Linked DNA regions of Homo sapiens: region 1 is linked to region 2. The links come from fine-mapping of genetic effects on gene expression. A gene starts in region 2. The other region holds a variant in brackets. All regions are shown on one strand. Distances are from middle to middle.

Region 1 (9,482 bases), 85 kb after region 2:
TTACTATCCTGAGAACAGCATGGGAAAAACCTGCCCCCATGATTCAATTACCTCTCACTGGGCCCCTCCTATGACACATGGTGATTATGGGAGCTATAATTCAAGATGAGATTTCAGTGGGGACACAGCCAAACCAATGACCTAAAGGTATTTACACATCTTTTTTCTATCATGTTAACTAATGGACAATCTAGAATGTAAATGAATAAGATATATACATATAATTAAACGATATTTGCTTGTTTTTATATTCTATATTTATGAATTTAGTTCTACTTAGAAAATATCCAGATAACCAAAGACTACTTTAATGAAATTAATTAGTTTAACAATAGTCTGGGGTCTTGAAGTCAGCCAGAGATTTTGGAAATTGTTTGAGGTTGACATTAAAGAGAAACACAATCCTTTTTGATCTTAAAACAGTTCATCAGACAAATATGATATTTAAAATTTGATATAGGTAGTATAAGTAAAGTTACTAGATCTATATGATTTATGGTATTATCTGAAGCTCACAAGAGCAAATCTTTCCAAAGATGGTTGAATGATAATTTTATAATTTTTAACAGTTAATGGAAGTAAAAATCAGTATAGGAAATCTAGCAAATCAGAATTAATTAAGTTTCTCATGAGAAAATAATATGCCAACATTTTTCACACTGTGATGAAATCAGGGGAAGACATGTAGCTATTTTTAAAGCCAAATTACCAAACCAATTTAATTTGTCCAGTGATTCGCCTTGATAGAAATATAACCTAAACTTATTTGTTTACAATTTTTTCTGTATTTACCAAATATTAAAACTTTCCAATTTTTGTTTAAAAGTACTGTTCTCTTAGAATTCTCCCCTACCCCCACTGTTTTCCAAACTGATAACTACTTATATTTTTCTGCCTCTTGAGACTTTGCAACCAAGGCCATTAATTTAATTTATAGTAAGCTCCTCCTCCTCCTCCTCATACTTCTCCTTCTTGTTTTATTGAGTTATGGCTTCAGCAAGCCTCTCAAGCTTTTATAAATGGTCAGCACACTTAAAACATTAGGATATAAATTTTTCTCTCTTCTTCCTGAAGATTATTGAATTTCTTATTCGTCTCTATAAGTCAATCAGAATAGGAATTCGTTTAACCATGAGACTTTATAATTAAATTACATTTTTTTTCAGACATAGACACAAATCTTGACGAACACTTCAGCCCTGCCTCCAGAATGAAAGGGGGAAACCTAGACCTGAATGGGCTTGACCATCTCACAGCTGCTCACGTGATGACCATATTCGTGGCAGGTAAAAAGATTGCTGTATCAACTCAAGAAAGCAGTAGCCTCACTGTCTTTGTATTTTGAATTGCAACAACAACTTTGATATCAACAATGAAGCAATGGTATCTAAGAACAAAAGAGCATTTGCCAAAAGTCATCATAATATCAAGTGATTGTATAAGCAGAAACAAGCTGTCACAGACCTGTGTGTCAGCTAACATAAGGAGAATGCTTTCTTCTGATGCTATTTATTTACAGGCAGTTTTAATATATATCACTTCAATTATATCTACATCAAATAAAATAAAAAATTAGTGAAGCCCCCAGATTCTTCATTGGACCAGAAGACACAGAAATAAATCCTGGAAATTATCAACATTTCTTCCACCATGCAGATGAAGATGATGAGGAGGAAGATGATTCTCCACCAGAAAGGCAGATTGTGGTTGGAATATGTTCCATGGCAAAGAAATCCAAATCCAAACCAATGAAGGAAATTCTTGAATGGGTCTCCTTATTTAAATATATCACAGTAGTGGTATTTGAAGAGGAGGTTATTTTGAGGGAACCAGTGGAAAACTGGCCTTTATGTGATTGTCTTTTTTCTTTGCACTCTAAAGGATTTCCACTGGACAAAGTGGTTGCCTATGCAAAACTCAGGAATCCATTTGTAATCAATGACTTGAATATGCAGTATCTCATACAAGATTGGAGAGAGGTATATAGTATTCTTCAAGCTGAAGTTATTTTACTTCCTTGTTATGCAATTTTGAACCGTGACCCAAATAATCCCAAAGAATGTAATCTGATTGAAGGGGAAGATCATGTAGAAGTAAATGAGGAAGTTTTTCAAAAGCCATTTGTAGAAAAGCCAGTCAGTGCAGAAGATCACAATGTTTACATTTATTACCCAACTTCTGCTGGCAGTGGAAGTCAAAGACTCTTTAGAAAGATTGGCAGTAGAAGTAGTGCTTATTCTCCACAAAGCAATGTACAAAAATCAAGCTCATATACACATGAAGAGTTTATGCCCGGAGACGATACTAATGTTAAGAGATTCCTCATGTTTTGCACCACCAACATCTTTGGCAGTCTGAAGCCTATGGACTCTTTCTTAACAAAAGTGTTCTTAAATGCTTTAAACATGTAAGATTATGATGGAGACAAATTTTATTCAAATATAATAAAATATTTAAAAATAAAAAAGTAATAGACACAAATATGCCATTTGTTTAGAAAATGTTTCATACTCAGCAGAAGTATCTTGTCATATCTCTGGGCAAGGAAAGAACTCTGGGAGAGTCTAAAGTTGCCTTTCTTTGTATTTTATTATGTCCTTTTTGGGGAAGACTTGTTCAGACATGATCAACTTATGGGTTCTACTGTAAGATTTTATAATATTTTGTCATAGTTCACATGAAGTTCTTCCTCACATCTTCACTTGGCTCATTTGTGACTATTTCCGTGGGACTTTTTTATTTATTAATATTTTCCAAGAGGAAAGAATAAAAAATTCATGTACTCTGAATCCTTTAGTTTCCTCAGAAGGCCATGAAGCCCCAGACAAGCCAGAAGCAATTATTCCCATTTTAAGGACATTCGAGCCTGCATACAATTGTAATACAAACCAAGCAAAGCTCTTTCAGAAGGCACAACTCTACTTCATGATCCATGAAAAACTGGTTTTAATATTTGCATGCATCTTCTTCCTATGAAGGTCTGTTTGAACTGGATATTTCTATAGCATGCACAAATGATAGATTGTTATGATCAATTAATATTCAAAATTTCCCCCAGAGAGAGAGAGAGAATGAGAGGTAGAATCACTCACAGGTACAGAAAGAACTACCATTATAAACAGACTATTATAAAGACAAGCTTCCTTCTGTGATGGTTTCCCAATGAATCACACTTCTCTGTCTCCATATGCTTGTGTAGTCCCTGTCACATTTACTCTGGGCTTGACCATTGACTTGCTCCAGCCAACAAGATATCAGCAGATATACAGCAAGCAAAGGCTTGATAAGCATGTGTGCACTGGGGCTTGCTCTCTTGGAGCACTTCTGCCACCATGTGAAGAAGCCAGGATGAAAGACCTCATAGAGAGAGACCCAGCTGGCTTAGCTGGTCCAACCATCCAAGCTGAGACTGTAGACATGTAAGAGAAGTTGTATGATATCATCCAGCCCCAGCTGAATACAGGGATGACTACAAACACATGAGTTAGGCTTGGCAAGATCAGCAGAAGAAACTCAACAAAAATTTGGCGAAACTGTTGCTGTTTCAAGGCACTGTGTTTTGGGGTGGTTTGCCACACAGTAACAAGTAACTTACATATCTTTATTTTCTAAGGAAAGTAAAAGGCCTTTTCCCCCTTTCAGTACAACGACCTAAAAATAACTGACCAAAGCAATTATAGATCATAAGACAAACAACATGAAGTTTCTTTCAATGGTTGGAAAAGTTAACAAATCAAGCAGATGTGACAAGGGCAATTCCTCAACCCCAAGGCTGAGGCCAGCCAAATCTGACTACCCCCTTATCTCATCATCTGGTTAAGAGATATCAGGAGATATCAGAATTTCTATGACAGTCAGACAAACAACTAAACAAAGATAAAGGGCCAAGCAGATTCCCAGTTACCTGTAACTTGTCAGAGACCATAGAAAACAATTTCCCAACATTAATTCAACTGCAACTGTGAACAAAAACACACATGGCTAAGAGCCAGGTTTAGCATGTAAAAGCCCATGAGTTTGATCCCTGTATAATGGCATGCACTGGGGAAGTGAGCAAAGGCAAGACAGAACACGGTGGGTCTGGATGAAAAACTTTCTTAGGCTGCATGCTTCTAAGGGCTCAGAGGCTTATCGGAATAACAGTCAAAGAATAATTTAGAGGTATTTAGTTTGGCTAGAAACTGAGCTGAGTTTACTTAGATTTGAGAGAGGTAGTATTTTCCCTGTATCAAGCATAGGTTGATTATCATGGAACAAAAGTAAAGAAGGCTTTATTAAAACATGAACTATAGACTGGTAGAACAATAATTTTGTTTTGTTTTGTTTTAAATTGACAGATAAAATTACATGTGTTTATCACAGTATGTTTTGATGTATACATACATTGTGGATTCACCTAATCTAGCTGATTAACGTATGCATTACCTCACATAGTTATCATTTTGTGGTGAGAACACTTAACATCCACTATCTTAGCATTTTTCAAGAATACAGTATATTGTTATTAACTATAACCATGTTGTATGATAGATCTCTTGAAGTTATTCCTCTCATCTAACTGAAATTGCATATCCTTTGACCAACATCTTTCCAACTCTCTTCCCCCCATCCACCTCAGCCCGTGGAAATCACTCATCTACTCTCCAGTTACATGAATCAACTTGTTTAGATTCCACATACGTGTGAGATTATGTGATAATTGTGCTCCTGTGCCTG[G/A]CTTATTTCACTTAACACAGTGTCCTCCAGGTTCATTCATATTGTTGCAATTGGCAGAAGATATCTACATTCTGATGTTTATTGCAGCACTATTCACAACAGCCAAGATATTGGAATGAATCTAAGTGTCGAAAATGAAGGAATGGATAAAGAAAATGTGGTAAATATACATAGTGGAAAGCTATGTATAGTCATAAAAATAATGAATTTTGTTTTTTGTCCATGGGCAAGTTGATTGGCTGAAAACTACAAAGAAAGAAGGACCGTTTTCCTTGGAGCAGGCTGACAAGATTTATCAGAGAAAGCAAATTTAATTATTAATGGGTTGCTTGAGAAACTTTATGATTTCAGCTGTGGAGTATATTCAATTGCTGTCTCTGTGTAACACAGCCTGGGCTCTTTCGTTGGCTTTCCTACCTTAGTTAAACCTAGACTGCACCACTTTCCTCACTATAAATCCTCATGGGACAGTGTTGAACTTTTCCTGATTCCTTGCAGGTTTTATTTCATTTTGTTTTGATATTAAGATCCTACAACTTTAATACATATTAACACTGTGTTTGTTATTATAAGAATAAATACATTTCAGGTTATAAAATAGCTATTAAAACTAGATTCTACTTACTATGTTAAATCATACAAATGCTTCTATGTTTCACTTGTGTGATTTTGGAGCAGTGATGGCCATCAGAGTCACTATACTTGAAACATGAAACTTGCTTTAATCGTACTATTAGCTTCTAATATTATAATAAGACAATAAATGATGTCATATTATTTAAGTCTTTTTATTTTGTATCATATTTACTGCATAGAGATGTCATGAGGATTAAAAGAGTTAATACAACAATTGCCATGTAAATGTTAGCTATTATTACACAATTATAATAAATATTTTAAGAAGGAAGGTCAAGAGAATATACAATAATTTGGCAAAACTATGTCAACTGCATAGGCGGATTTATATCAGTGAGGTACTAGGTAATAGAGGGAAAGAAATTCACTATACTTTTGAATTAAAATTTCAAGCACTATTTTAATATCTTTTTGGAAGAGGCTAATTTAAGGGGATCTCATGGATAGTCCTTTTAAAGGCATGTCTGTGTATAGTGGGTATTCCCATGTTTCAATTCTTATAAATTTTCCCAATAAAATATTTTTTAATTTGTCTTCTCCACTCCCCCAGTTTGACCCGGAATTGATAAACTTTAAATACAATGAAGATATGTTTATCAGAAAAATATTTTACTCTGCTTAATTTCTTAATGTAATAAAATATATATCACCAAAAATATTGTCATTTTAAACATTTTTCAGTTGCAATTCAGTGTCATTAACTAAATTCACAGTGTTGTACAACCATACCATTATTTCCAAACACTCTTCATCACCCAGACAGAAACTCTGTACCCATTAAGCAATAACTCTCCATTCCTCACTTCCACTAGCCCCTGGTAACCTCTACGCTACTTCTTCTCTCTATGACTTTGACTATTCTAGATACTTAATGTAAGTGCAATTTTTGTCCTTTTGGGTCTGGCTTATTTCACTTAGTATAATGTTTTTTGAGGTTCATCAGTGTTGTGGCATGTATCAGGATCATTTCTTTTTATGGCTGAATTATATCCCATAGCATGTATAGACCACATTTTGCTTATCCACTCATATATTGATGGATGTTTGGGTTGTTTCCACCTTTTGGCTACTGTGAATAGTGCTGCAATGAACATTTTTGTGCAAGTATTGGTGTGAGTTTTTGTTTTTAATTATTTTGAATATATACTGAGGAATGGAGTTGCTGGCTCCTATGAACTGTTTCAGTTTCTAAATCTAAATTAGTTAAAATTATGTTAAATTAAAAATTCAGTCCCTTAGTTATGCTAGCCATATTTCGAGAACTCTTTAGTCACATACAGCTAATGATTACCATATTGGTCAGTGCAGGTCTGGATTAATAATTTGATGAATATCTTTATAATAAATCTACTAATTGTGCCCATTTTCTCTACTGCTCAAATAAGCCTTGTTCTTCCTGCTTTTGTGCTTTGGTTTACCTTTCCTGAGGTCATACTTCTTTTTGCCTGGGATATCTACCTATTCTCTATTTTCTTTTATAGAAATGTTATCTGTTTCAGAAAGTATTCTTTATTACTGCAGCTCACACTGATCATTCCTACTCATAAACTGTCAAAGCATTTGTTAACTTTATTATTTCCATGACATTTACTTGCATTATACTGTAGTTATTTATTTCTTTGTTTCTTATCTGGATTAAAATTCCTTATTGGCAAAGCTAATAATAAAAACAAGAACTACATCAGCAAAACAAAACTAGTCATTTATTAAATGATTGCAGTTCCTCAGGCACAGTGTTGTTTTATACACTCCATTTCATTTACTTCTTAAAACAGAAAGGAAGTAGTATTATCTGAATTCTAAATCAGGATTTTGGGTTTACAGGCTAAGTATCATGTTTAAATCCCTATATCTAGCAAATGGTAGAGTCAGAATTCAAACTCAGGTATGTCAGATGCTCTTACAAGTCTGCTTATACTTTATAAATATTACTTTGGGAAATCTTTATAAATAATATTATCTAACATTTACTTATTGTTTACTCTGTGCCAGATCTTATTGTAAGTGCTTTTCTTGTATATAATATCTTAATTCTTATAACAGTCTTAGGAAGTGTGAGCTGTAATCACCATCATTTTATATATATGATAACAGTTCAGAAAAGTTAAGTTTCACAAGCCAGACACAAAAAGCCTAACATCGCATGTTCTCACTCATACGTGGAAGCTAAAAAATGTGTAAACATGGATGTAGAGAGTGAAATGATAGGCAAAGGAGACTCCGAGGGGTGAATGGGTGGGTGTGGCAGGGGTGCATGATGAGGAATTACTTAATGGGGAAAATGTATGTTATTCAGGTGATGGATACCCTGAAGCCTTGACGTTACAATTACACGATCTATGAATGTAACAAATTTACACTTGTACCCCATAAATTTAAACAAGTTAAAAATAAATACATAAATAATCCCTCCCCAAAGTTAAGTTTCATACCTATTAAATGGCAGAGTCAAGATTTGGACTGAGTGTAAATCAGAGCTTGCATTTTTTTTTTATTATTATTATACTTTAAGTTTTAGGGTACATGTGCACAATGTGCAGGTTAGTTACATATGTATACATGTGCCATGCTGGTGTGATGCACCCATTAACTCGTCATTTAGCATTAGGTGTATCTCCTAATGCTATTCCTCCCCCCCTCCCCCCACCCCACAACAGTCCCCAGAGTGTGATGTTCCCCTTCCTGTGTCCATGTGTTCTCATTGTTCAATTCCCACCTATGAGTGAGAACATGCGGTGTTTGGTTATTTGTCCTTGCAATAGTTTACTGAGAATGATTTCCAATTTCATCCATGTCCCTACAAAGGACATGAACTCATCATTTTTTATGGCTGCATAGTATTCCATGGTGTATATGTGCCACATTTTCTTAATCCAGTCTATCATTGTTGGACATTTGGGTTGATTTCAAGTCTTTGCTATTGTGAATAGTGCCACAATAAACATACGTGTGCATGTGTCTTTATAGCATCATGATTTATAGTCCTTTGGGTATATACCCAGTAATGGGATGGCTGGGTCAAATGGTATTTCTAGTTCTAGATCCCCGAGGAATCGCCACACTGACTTCCACAATGGTTGAACTAGTTTACAGTCCCACCAACAGTGTAAAAGTGTTCCTATTTCTCCACATCCTCTCCAGCACCTGTTGTTTCCTGACTTTTTAATGATTGCCATTCTAACTAGTGTGAGATGGTATCTCATTGTGGTTTTGATTTGCATTTCTCTGATGGCCAGTGATGGTGAGCATTTTTTCATGTGTCTGTTGGCTGCATAAATGTCTTCTTTTGAGAAATGTCTGTTCATATCCTTCGCCCACTTTTTGATGGGGTTGTTTGTTTTTTTCTTGTAAATGTGTTTGAGTTCATTGTAGATTCTAGATATTAGCCCTTTGTCAGATGAGTAAGTTGCGAAAATTTTCTCCCACTTTGTAGGTTGCCTGTTCACTCTGATGGTAGTTTCTTTTGCTGTGCAGAAGCTCTTTAATTAGATCCCATTTATCAATTTTGTCTTTTGTTGCCATTGCTTTTGGTGTTTTAGACATGAAGTCCTTGCCCATGCCTATGTCCTGAATGGTAATGCCTAGGTTTTCTTCTAGGGTTTTTATGGTTTTAGGTCTAACATTTAAGTCTTTAATCCATCTTGAATTCATTTTTGTATAAGGTGTAAGGAAGGGATCCAGTTTCAGCTTTCTACATATGTCTAGCCAGTTTTCCCAGCACCATTTATTAAATAGGGAATCCTTTCCCCATTGCTTGTTTTTCTCAGGTTTGTCAAAGATCAGATAGTTGTAGATATGCGGCGTTATTTCTGAGGGCTCTGTTCTGTTCCATTGATCTATATCTCTGTTTTGGTACCAGTACCATGCTGTTTTGGTTACTGTAGCCTTGTAGTATAGTTTGAAGTCAGGTAGCGTGATGCCTCCAGCTTAATAGCTTACCAACCAAAAAGAGTCCAGGACCAGTTGGATTCACAGCCGAATTCTACCAGAGGTACAAGGAGGAACTGGTACCATTCCTTCTGAAACTATTCCAATCAATAGAAAAAGAGGGAATCCTCCCTAACTCATTTGAGGAGGCCAGCATCATCCTGATACCAAAGCCGGGCAGAGACACAACCAAAAAAGAGAAT
Region 2 (9,414 bases):
AAATTATCTGTGGACAGTGGACTGGTTCTACTCATTGAAAGACATTATTAAGTTTATTTACAAACATATTCCAAACAAAACATATAAAGCTTCATATGTATAAGTTTAAAGTCAAAAGATAGAACCGAACATATACCAAAACTAAATCCTAATCCTGGTTCACGTTGTCGATTGGCTTTTGTATGCTGTGATCTCCAATGAAAACGAGAAATACTTCTCAGGACCTGTAAAGAACACTTTTATTAAAATAAATTTGATAAGTTAAACATTAATCAGATAAGAGACTACTGATAATCATAAGTGAGTACAGCAACTGGTTTGACCATACTCATAGTTTTTAAAGTCATCACTATTTAAATGCCTTCAATCATAATTTAAATAAGCCAATTATCAGTTATATAAATTCCTATTACAGAGGAGATGTTTTTAAAAAGTAATGAAAATAAAGTCAGTGGTATTTATACTACTGAAGTGGAGGGTTTAGGACAAACAACAGTCAAGGGTAGTAGTAGATGTAGGACCACTATTCTGGGTATCTTACAAGCTCCTAGGACATTAATGGTTGGAGAGTTGGGGTGGGGAGAACGATAGGCTGGAAGTGAACATACTGTGTTCAAGAGTTGCCTAGTCCATCAACTTTGATACCCTGTCACTGTGAGCCTCCCATGCATGCCTCTGGAAACCTTCCCCTCAGAGGATCTCATTTTTTAGGATACCCCACTCTAACAAAACAAATTAGCATAAAACCATGTTCTGTATTTTCTGCTGTCTACAGGGATTCTTACAATGTTCTGAGCAAGGAGTCACCAAACCAGTGCAGCCACATCATGCTGTCTATTGCCGCTTTCACAGCAGATCTAAGTAGTTACCACAGAGACCATCTGGTTCACAAAGCCAAAAACATGTACTATCCGTTCCTTTACAAACACGTTTGCCATCCCTCTTCTAAACTACTAATACACTACTTGTCTTAGGATCTGAAATATAGTCATATTTCTTCAAAGGAACATATAAAGAAACAAACAATCAAATATACATATATTATTGTTTTGCAACCCATTTTTATATTCATGACAGTTTAATGGATACAAAAGTAAAAATTTGCATTTATTAAAGCTGCCAAACTGGGAACCACAATGGTGTTCTTGAGTAAAGGTTTCAGGACAGTCAAAATTACACAATTTTCACTGTAAAAGATTTTAATTGAACTATCCAGCAATTTTAACAAGCTTAGATACTAAGAGAAAAGAGCAGCTGAAGAATATACTAAAGTTTCTTTATTTAAATTCTTATGTTTTTCAAAATCCGTAAAAAGAAACTGTCTTTGTAGATGACAATTTCAACTTATAAAAGACGAATTCCTACATGTAAGGTGACAATATAATTAAGAGTGTCAAATATTTGTAATTGAAACAGTGCTTTCCAAATAACATACCTCATACTACAGTAATAAAAACATACAGAGTATGAAAACTCGCATTTTCTTTGCATCTTCATTAATTTTATTTTGAAAGTGAAACAGTGCCAGGTGGGGTGGCTCATGCGTGTAATCCCAGCACTTTGGGAGGCTGAGGTGGGCGGATCACGAGGTCAGGGGTTTGAGACCAGCCTGACCAACATGGTGAAACCCCATTTCTACTAAAAATACAAAAATTAGCCAGGTGTGGTGGCACGCACCTGTAGTCCCAGCTACTCGGGACGCTGAGGCAGGAGAATCGCTTGAACCCGGAAGGCGGAGGTTGCAGTGAGCCTAGACTGCACCATTGCATTCCAGCCTGGGTGACAGAGCAAGACTCCGTCTCAAAAAAAAAAAAAAAAAAAAAAGTGAAACAGTTTCTCTGGTGCTTATTGTCCAGCAGTCACAGACCAAATCTACTCTGATTTACAGTCGCGTTACACAGGTTAATTCACTGAATCCCAGGTCAAGTCTAGGATTAAGCCATTACTTTTATTCCACTTTCGCATGTGAAGAAACGAAGGCTCAGAAAGTCAACTAAATTAGGCAAAGTCACTCTACTATTAGTGCAACCAGGATTCTAACATTTACTATCAAGAGCGCATGCTATTAACCACCTTGCTATACTGATCTTTCTGTTAGTATCCTAATTGGTCACTAGGTTCCATAACAAAGGAAAACATTCCACAAAAATCAGAACAAAAAACCTGACTCTATTATAAATGCGTTTTTAAATACCATGCACAAAAGTCAGAACTCAAACCAGGTTAAATGGTCTACTGAGGGACTTTTTTTTTTTTTTGACAGAGTCTCCCTCTGTCACCCAGGCTAGAGTGCGGTGGAGAGATCTCCGCTCACTGCAGACTCAGCCTCCTGGGATTACAGGCATATGCTACCATGCCCAGCTAATTTTTCCTATTTTTAGTAAAGACAGGGTTTCCCTGCTTTGGCCAGGCTGGTCTCGAACTCCTGGCCTTAAGTGATCAACCCGCCGAGGCCTCCCAAGGTGCTAGGATCACAACCGTGAGCCGCCGCACCTGGCCAACCGAGGGAATTTAAATAGGGAAAAAGTCACTTCACATGTGACTGTTCAGGAAAATATGTTACATAGAACAAAGTGCAAAGGTTGCTATTACCAGAATACAATGCCCATCAACCTGTTAATTACATAACAAAGTTAGCCAGTTAATTAGAGAGGTGGTTTGCAAATAGAAAACAGAAACAGCACGGGATCTGGAGTTATAATTGCTGAATGTGAATCTAGGTTCCACAACCATATTTGTGGCCGTAGACAGGTTTACAAACTGCTTATAGCTTCCGTTCAAAACCAAAAAATGGGACTAATCTCACTGCGTATTTTCGGACGATTAAAGTACGATAATGTTTTGAAAGCCTAATGCTATATAACTATTGGTTTTATTACTTCGGGCTCTCTGTCTAGAACAATGAAATTCCAAATATCGAAACAGCACCACTAGAATTGAACACTTTTGTGCATTTCTTGGGAATATAAGAGTGTCAGTTTTATGGGTTAAAGAAGAGAAAAAGGGTGTAAGTTTTCTATATCAGGTTTTTTTTAGATCCTTCCTTGGAGGTTGAGAAATCTGCTTTTCTGGTGTAGGAGTTAAAAATAGCTGAAATCTCCCAATTTCTGCCTTCACTGCACATTAACTTGCATAACACCAGCAAAACATGGGCAGCAATTCTTTAGGATTATTCTAAAACCGCAGCTTTTTTGGTCCAAGACATAACTTTAACTTAATTTTAAGTGACATCTAAATGGCAGTGGTGTGAACATATCAAGAATATTTAAGATACCAAAATTCATCTAGTGACAAACTTATTTAGAATCTATTAAGATCCAATACTAGAATATACACACAAGTTCACATAAAATTCTGCAGGTTTTTTTTTTACTTTTTTTTTTCCCGTAAGCAACGTGGAAACGTTACAACGAAAAGCTTATTAAACATTAAGTATTTCAAGGAGTAGCTGCTCCATTTTTCTTTTTCCCGTGGTTCTGACACAGAGACGGGGTCACTTTGGAAAAAGGTGGGATTCCCGCGGTAAATATTTGGAGGGTTTACCAGAGAAAGAAAAACGATATTCTAAAGAGAGGATGCCGGCTATAACGGGGTCGCCTGACGGGAGGATACGGAAAATGAAACGCTAGGCTACGTTCCGTCCGGTGGTAGGAGGCGTGAAAGCAGGTTGGGGGCCCCTAGGCTGGCTCCTTCCTCAGCCCGACTTCCCACTCCTCCCGGCCGCACCTATTTTTGGCCCAGGGCCCCCTGCTCCGACACCACAATACCCATGTTCCAGCCCCACCGCACCGCTGGGCTCCCTCTCACCCTGCAGCATCGCCCGAACCCCGCTGCCATGTTGGCTCCCGTTCCGGCCACTCGGACAATAATACACGGGTCACGGCCTTGACATACTCCCCGAACGCGGGACTCCTCTGGTCCCGCCCACTGGAGCCCGTGGGCGGGATGGGGCGGGGCGGGAAGAGGCGGTTGGGCTGCGGAAGGACGGGGCGCTGCGCTAGGCGGGGTGGCAGCGGTCCCCGGCGCCGGGTAGCCAACGCATGCTCCGTGACCCTTGCGTGCGCCGTCGCTGCGACCTGGGGAGGGGTCGCATCCCCTCTCCGGGCAATCTCTGATAGTCCTGGTTTGGTTTTCTGCGTTTCCACCTCTGGCCCTCTCTGTGGGACGCCGAGGCTGACCGCAGCGCGGAAAGAGAGCCAGGGCGGGGGAGGGGGACGGCGGCGGGGCTGGGAGGGCCCGGTTGCGCTGAACGGTGGGGGGACTTGCGGCGCGGTGCAGGACGGGAACCTGGGTTAGAGGGCGTGGCTGGGGCCTGGAGGGAGAGCGGCCCCCGTGGTCAGCCTTCACCTTTACCCGGAGAGAACGGTCAAACCCAGATCGTGTCTGCTTGGCGGATTCAAAGTATTAGTACATTTTGCTCTCAAATGCCCTACCTAAAGCGAAAGCATACTTGTGTTTCCTTAAAATTTAAAAGAGAATTTAATTGTTTAGGTAAATTTGACCTTTCCGCGTATTCCCAAGGCTGTTTATGACTTGTCCGCTGATGTGGTGTCCTTGGATATGCGGGTGCAATCCGAGGCTGTCCAAAGCTCCTGGTTCAGCGAATGATGGAAGTGAATGTCTCCCTGAGGAATTCTACCTGGAGTCACTTTCTCTTCCAGTGAGACCCTGAGTTTTGAGATGGTAGCTTATACTAAATCTTATACTAACTTAACATTTTCTTTTGCCCAATAAAGGTCACCCATAAATTCATCTAATTTAGCTGTTAAAATTCTATATCCTGTTATTGTATTCCCCTACTTTGTCTTCTGGGAATTTATAGTGTGTTAGTCCTAGGTACAAGGCAGAATGTTAATTAAGCGCTATATTCAAAGTGAAAGTACCAGGAAAATTCGGAAAAGGGATAAAGAGCTGAGTTTGTCCTGGTATAGGCAAGAAAGCCTTCAAAGTGGTGGTGGTAAGTAAAACACAAAGCGGACTCTTAAAGATGATTAGGAATTGTCTATTCATGTCTCCTTTGTTCCAATTTCTTATTCTGAACATTTTAAACACAGAAAAGATGAACGAAAAGCACAAAATCACCCATATGCCTATTGTAACCCCTTCTTACTGTACACGTGGCTGGCAGAGAAGCGAAGATGGAGCCCTCATCTTAAACATGTCTAGTCGGTAGTTCCTGCCACCATTCACCCAAGCAAGCTACCCCCTTGTTTGTCTGTGCCTGCAGCTCGACTTCACAGGCTGCTCTTAGAAAAGGATTTGGGGCTGCTTTTCATTAAAAAGAAAAGCCTTACTGATGTTGGGAACGGGCGCTCAGTGTTGCAAAAATCAACACTGAGACAAAGGAGCTCTTAGCAAGGCTAGTTTACTTTCTGCAGAAAGGTTGCCGCTCGCTAGTAGTCTTGCCACGAGAGCACACACGCATAAAGGAGACAGGGTCATTTATAACCTGACACGTGCACCCTACTACCGTGTCCGGTTTCCATTGGCTGGAAGGGGACCTCTGTACTTGTCCTGATTGGCTAGCAACTTAGAACTTTCCAAAAGAGGCAAAGACAGAGGAGAACAAAGGAAGGAGGAAGCAACTTGTGGAATGCTGAGAAAGGTAAAAACACCTCCAGATAAGGAAGAAAACAGGCTATGGCCTAATGCTTCCTTGGACCAGTATAAGCATGCCAGGGCAAATATCTAGGCTAAAATGTGGCAGCTAAGAGCACAAAGTACATTGATTTCTTTATTACGGCCAACAGATATCAAAGAATGTTAGTGTGGCCAACTGCCACGGTTACTACTTGAGACCATCGTTACAGCAGTTACTACTGTTACTGCTTGAGACCATCATTGTGAGATCAAATGAAGGGACGAACGTAGAAATGATAACTTAAGACAAAAGGAACTGTTTTAAGGAAAGGGCCAGGGGAAGAAGAAGAGAGCTCCCTGCTTCTCGTGAGCAAAGGCAGCCACAGAGCTTCCACAGCCCTTCCTATTTTTTGGGTAACAGGAGCAGGGAGGAGGTGGTAACGATTGGTCAGCTGCTTAATTGATCACAGGTTCATATTGTTACTGACAGGCTTCAATTATGCCTAATCATAAGAAACATTTGTGCCTAGATCGTAACTACCCTCAGCAGTCCTCCTGGGTGGCATACGCAGTTTGTCAGTTCGCCAACGTTCTGCATTTATGAGAAACAGTTTGCTGCTTACTCATATAGCCTCCAGTGATATACTGAGTTGATCACGAACCTCATTGTTTCGGCCTCCAATATGTTAGCACAGTTCTTTGAATAAATTTTGCTTTTAAGAGAAGTTACTGTTTATTCCTAATTAGACGGAAAGGAAAGTCCATTTGAAGAGGAACCTCTACTTCACTTTTTACACTGAGGACTCCCATACTCGTACTATCGGCCTGAGTAATTTCTTCTCAATATCATTATCACCTAGATTCAAATATTTTTCCATATTTATTTATATATTTATATGTGTACCTATGTGTGTGTGTTTTGGTTGTTGGTTTTATTTTTCTCAGATCTGTAGGTTGTAGATAAGACACTTCAGTTCAGAATACTTTAGCTATATGTCTCCTACAAGGACATTTTCCTATATAACCATTTCCTATAAAACCTTTATCACATCAATGAAAATTAACAATTATTCGCTACTATTATTTAAGGTCCAGAGAATATTTACATTTCTCCAGTTGTCCAGTTGTCTCCAGAATACCTTTTGTAAATAGTTTGTTTTTGAACCAGGATCCTATGAATGATTGCCCATTGAAGTTGGGCTTTAACTTTCTTTGGCTTCTTTTAATCTAAAGCTTTTAATCTAATTCATTTTTCCCAATAATAACTGTCTTTTTAAACAAATTTAAGATACCAAGCAGTTGTCATGAAGAATGCCCTAATGCTGGATTGTCCGATTTTATTTATTTTGTACCTCTAGATTTTGTATTTCCTATCAGTTGCAAGTTACCAGAGGCTTGAGGAGTTCAGATTAAACATTGGATAAGGATACTTCAAAGGTCATACTGTGTAGTTAATATTGTATTACATTAGGAGGCATTTAATATCAGATTTGTCCCACTATTGGTGATGGTGTAAGCCAGCAGTGTCCAATCTTTTGGCTTCCCTGGGCCACACTGGAAGAAAAAGAATTGTCTTGGGCTATACATAAAATACACTAACACTAATGTTAACTGATAAGCTACAAACCAAAACAAAAACGCAAGAAAATTTCATAACGTTTTAAGAAAGCTTACAAATTTATGTTGGGCTGCATGCAAAGCTGTCCTGAGCTGCATGTGGCCTGTGGGTTGCATGTGGTCTGTGGGCAGCAGGTTGGACAAGCTTGCTGTAAACCAAAAACAAAATTCTAAATTCCCCCCAACTATCTGAATGGACTTTCTCGTAGGCTAGGGCACTCTAAAATTTAAATTTAACCTGAAAGACTACTTCAGGCCATGATGGGAAGTGGGGGTTGGACATGCCTCTTTATACCTCAGTGATGTTAACATCAACACAGACCTTAAGTCTGATAAGAAACATTTACAATCTCTTCTCTCTGAAGGAGAGAGATAACAGAATGCTTTTCTGTTCTCACCTGAAGGCTTCCTTTGCACAATAAGAACTTTGGTCTCCACAATCCTTTAATCTTAACCCAGACATTTCCTTTCTGTTGGTTCCAGGTCTTTAGATAAACTTAACCAAGTGTCAGCCAGAAAATGTTTAAATCTGCCTATAACCTGGAACCTCCCCCCGCCTACCCCCCCAGCTCCACCCCTGCTTCAAGTTGTCCTGTCTTTCTGAACTGAACCAATGTATTTCTTAAATGTATTTGATTGAAGTCTCATATTTCCCTAAAATATATAAAACCAACCTGCACCCCAACCACCCTGAGCACATGTTCTCAGGATCTCCCAAGGACTGTGTCGTGGGCCATGATCACTCATATTTGGCTCGGAATAAATCTCTTCAAATATTTTACAAAGTTTGACTCTTTGTTGACAATGCTATTTGATCATTTGATTATTGACAGACAGTTCTTTCTATGGTAAAGTTATAGTTTTCCCTTTGCAATTAGGAAGTAATTTATAGGGTAATATTTGGCATCATGCCAAACAATCTTTCATCTACATTTTTGCCAGTAGTAGGAATAGAACCATCTCTCAAGAAATACCTTTTTATTAATTAAGCACTGTTTCACAAAACTTCTCTACATTTTTAGGTGAAATAATTCGAACGTCTCCCTGGTGTTCCTTCTCCCTAACCCATCTATTTCAAGGTAAGCAGGACTATACAGACCTACGCTCCAAAGTCTAAGGAAGCTGAGAGGCTAAAGAAAGAGGCTGACACATTAACGTTTCTCAAAAAGAAACATTTAATGGAGACTTAAAAACAGAAGCCCTGTCTGCATCTCAGGCGGCAGTGAGACAAGATGGTGGATCCCAGTGCCATTACCCCTCAGACCCAGGGGTTGTATACCACAGGGAAAGGGTGACTCAGAAGGGACATGTAGGACAATTGAAATACAATAACATCAAAGTTGTCTTGATCTAAGGGCAGGATTTACAGTAAGTACATGCTTTTACACAAGAAACAATAGAGAGAGGGGAAATCTTAGAAGCCTTCCCAGAACAGGGGAAGTCCACATGGTGGATTAACATCCTAGGTGGCGTTGCTTTGTCCTCCACATTCCACTAATTCATGTGTAGAGTCTCACGCACCCTTCTTTTTTGCAATGGTCCCAGAGCCTTTGAAATCCCACTGGGCCATATTGGTTTCTCATTGCCAACATACTCCTTGGGATTTCAAACAAGGGAGATTGACAGGCTTCGTTGAATTTCTCTAGTCTTCAGAATACTATGACTTTAGTTTTCTCGGAAGTAAAACAACAAAAGATACATAGCATCAATAATTTGAATAGTAGAAATACAATCCACACAAGGATTACAATCAGAAGAGAATTTGTATGCCAGAACAAAAATGAAAGGAGCCTATTCGAGTAAGCAGCCAACTAAAAGCATCATGAAGAAAATTAAAACCAAGTTCCTTTTTAGAGACTTCTTGTAGCCAGGAAATAATTCAGGATTTAGTCCAAATTATAGGCAAATTATAAAAACTCAAAAGCAGTGGTCAGGGCTAGAATCTAAGATTTTTTTTTCTCCAGTTTTCTTATTTCTACCAAGGATAAATTATACTAGGACCAATTTATTTGCAAAATAAATTTGTCTCATTATATTGGCCTGGTTATTTGAATAAATTGTAGCAGGAATAGTGATCAGCCATATAGGCTCCTTTTAAGTTGGCTTTGCTAGAACTATCAGAATTTTTTATTCCAGTGTTTTAAAGCCTCAACGCCAGAAGCAAAGCCAAGGATTCACCATTAGACTGCATTTATAATACCTGTACAAATTTCTCTC

Direction of the effects. Alleles are on the strand shown, and positions count from the first base shown. SD is a standard deviation of normalised expression in the study named.
With allele A in place of G in region 1, the expression in ovary of the gene that starts at base 3,916 in region 2 is lower (large effect, 0.89 SD a copy in GTEx).

The links. PIP is the estimated chance that this variant, and not a neighbour inherited with it, causes the effect. A credible set is the group of variants that fine-mapping cannot tell apart.
Region 1: its variant is the best candidate, but not a certain one, in a credible set for the expression of ACADM in ovary (GTEx, PIP 0.85).

What each region holds. Positions count from the first base shown.
Region 1 is chr1:75,634,177-75,643,658 of GRCh38, reverse strand. It overlaps a transcript of SLC44A5 not described here and the pseudogene LOC100421536. Among named protein-coding and RNA genes, the nearest start is that of SLC44A5, 28 kb to the right of the region's middle. RefSeq lists an enhancer at 3,248-3,407. The variant G/A (reference allele first, on the strand shown) is at 4,717.
Region 2 is chr1:75,719,211-75,728,624 of GRCh38, reverse strand. It overlaps ACADM (acyl-CoA dehydrogenase medium chain), which reads right to left and starts at 3,916. Exons shown (of 12, transcript NM_000016.6): 1 at 3,808-3,916; 2 at 137-224. The coding sequence starts at 3,837. It also overlaps a transcript of SLC44A5 not described here. RefSeq lists enhancers at 3,701-3,790, 4,441-4,530, 8,263-8,888 and silencers at 3,921-3,970, 4,021-4,070.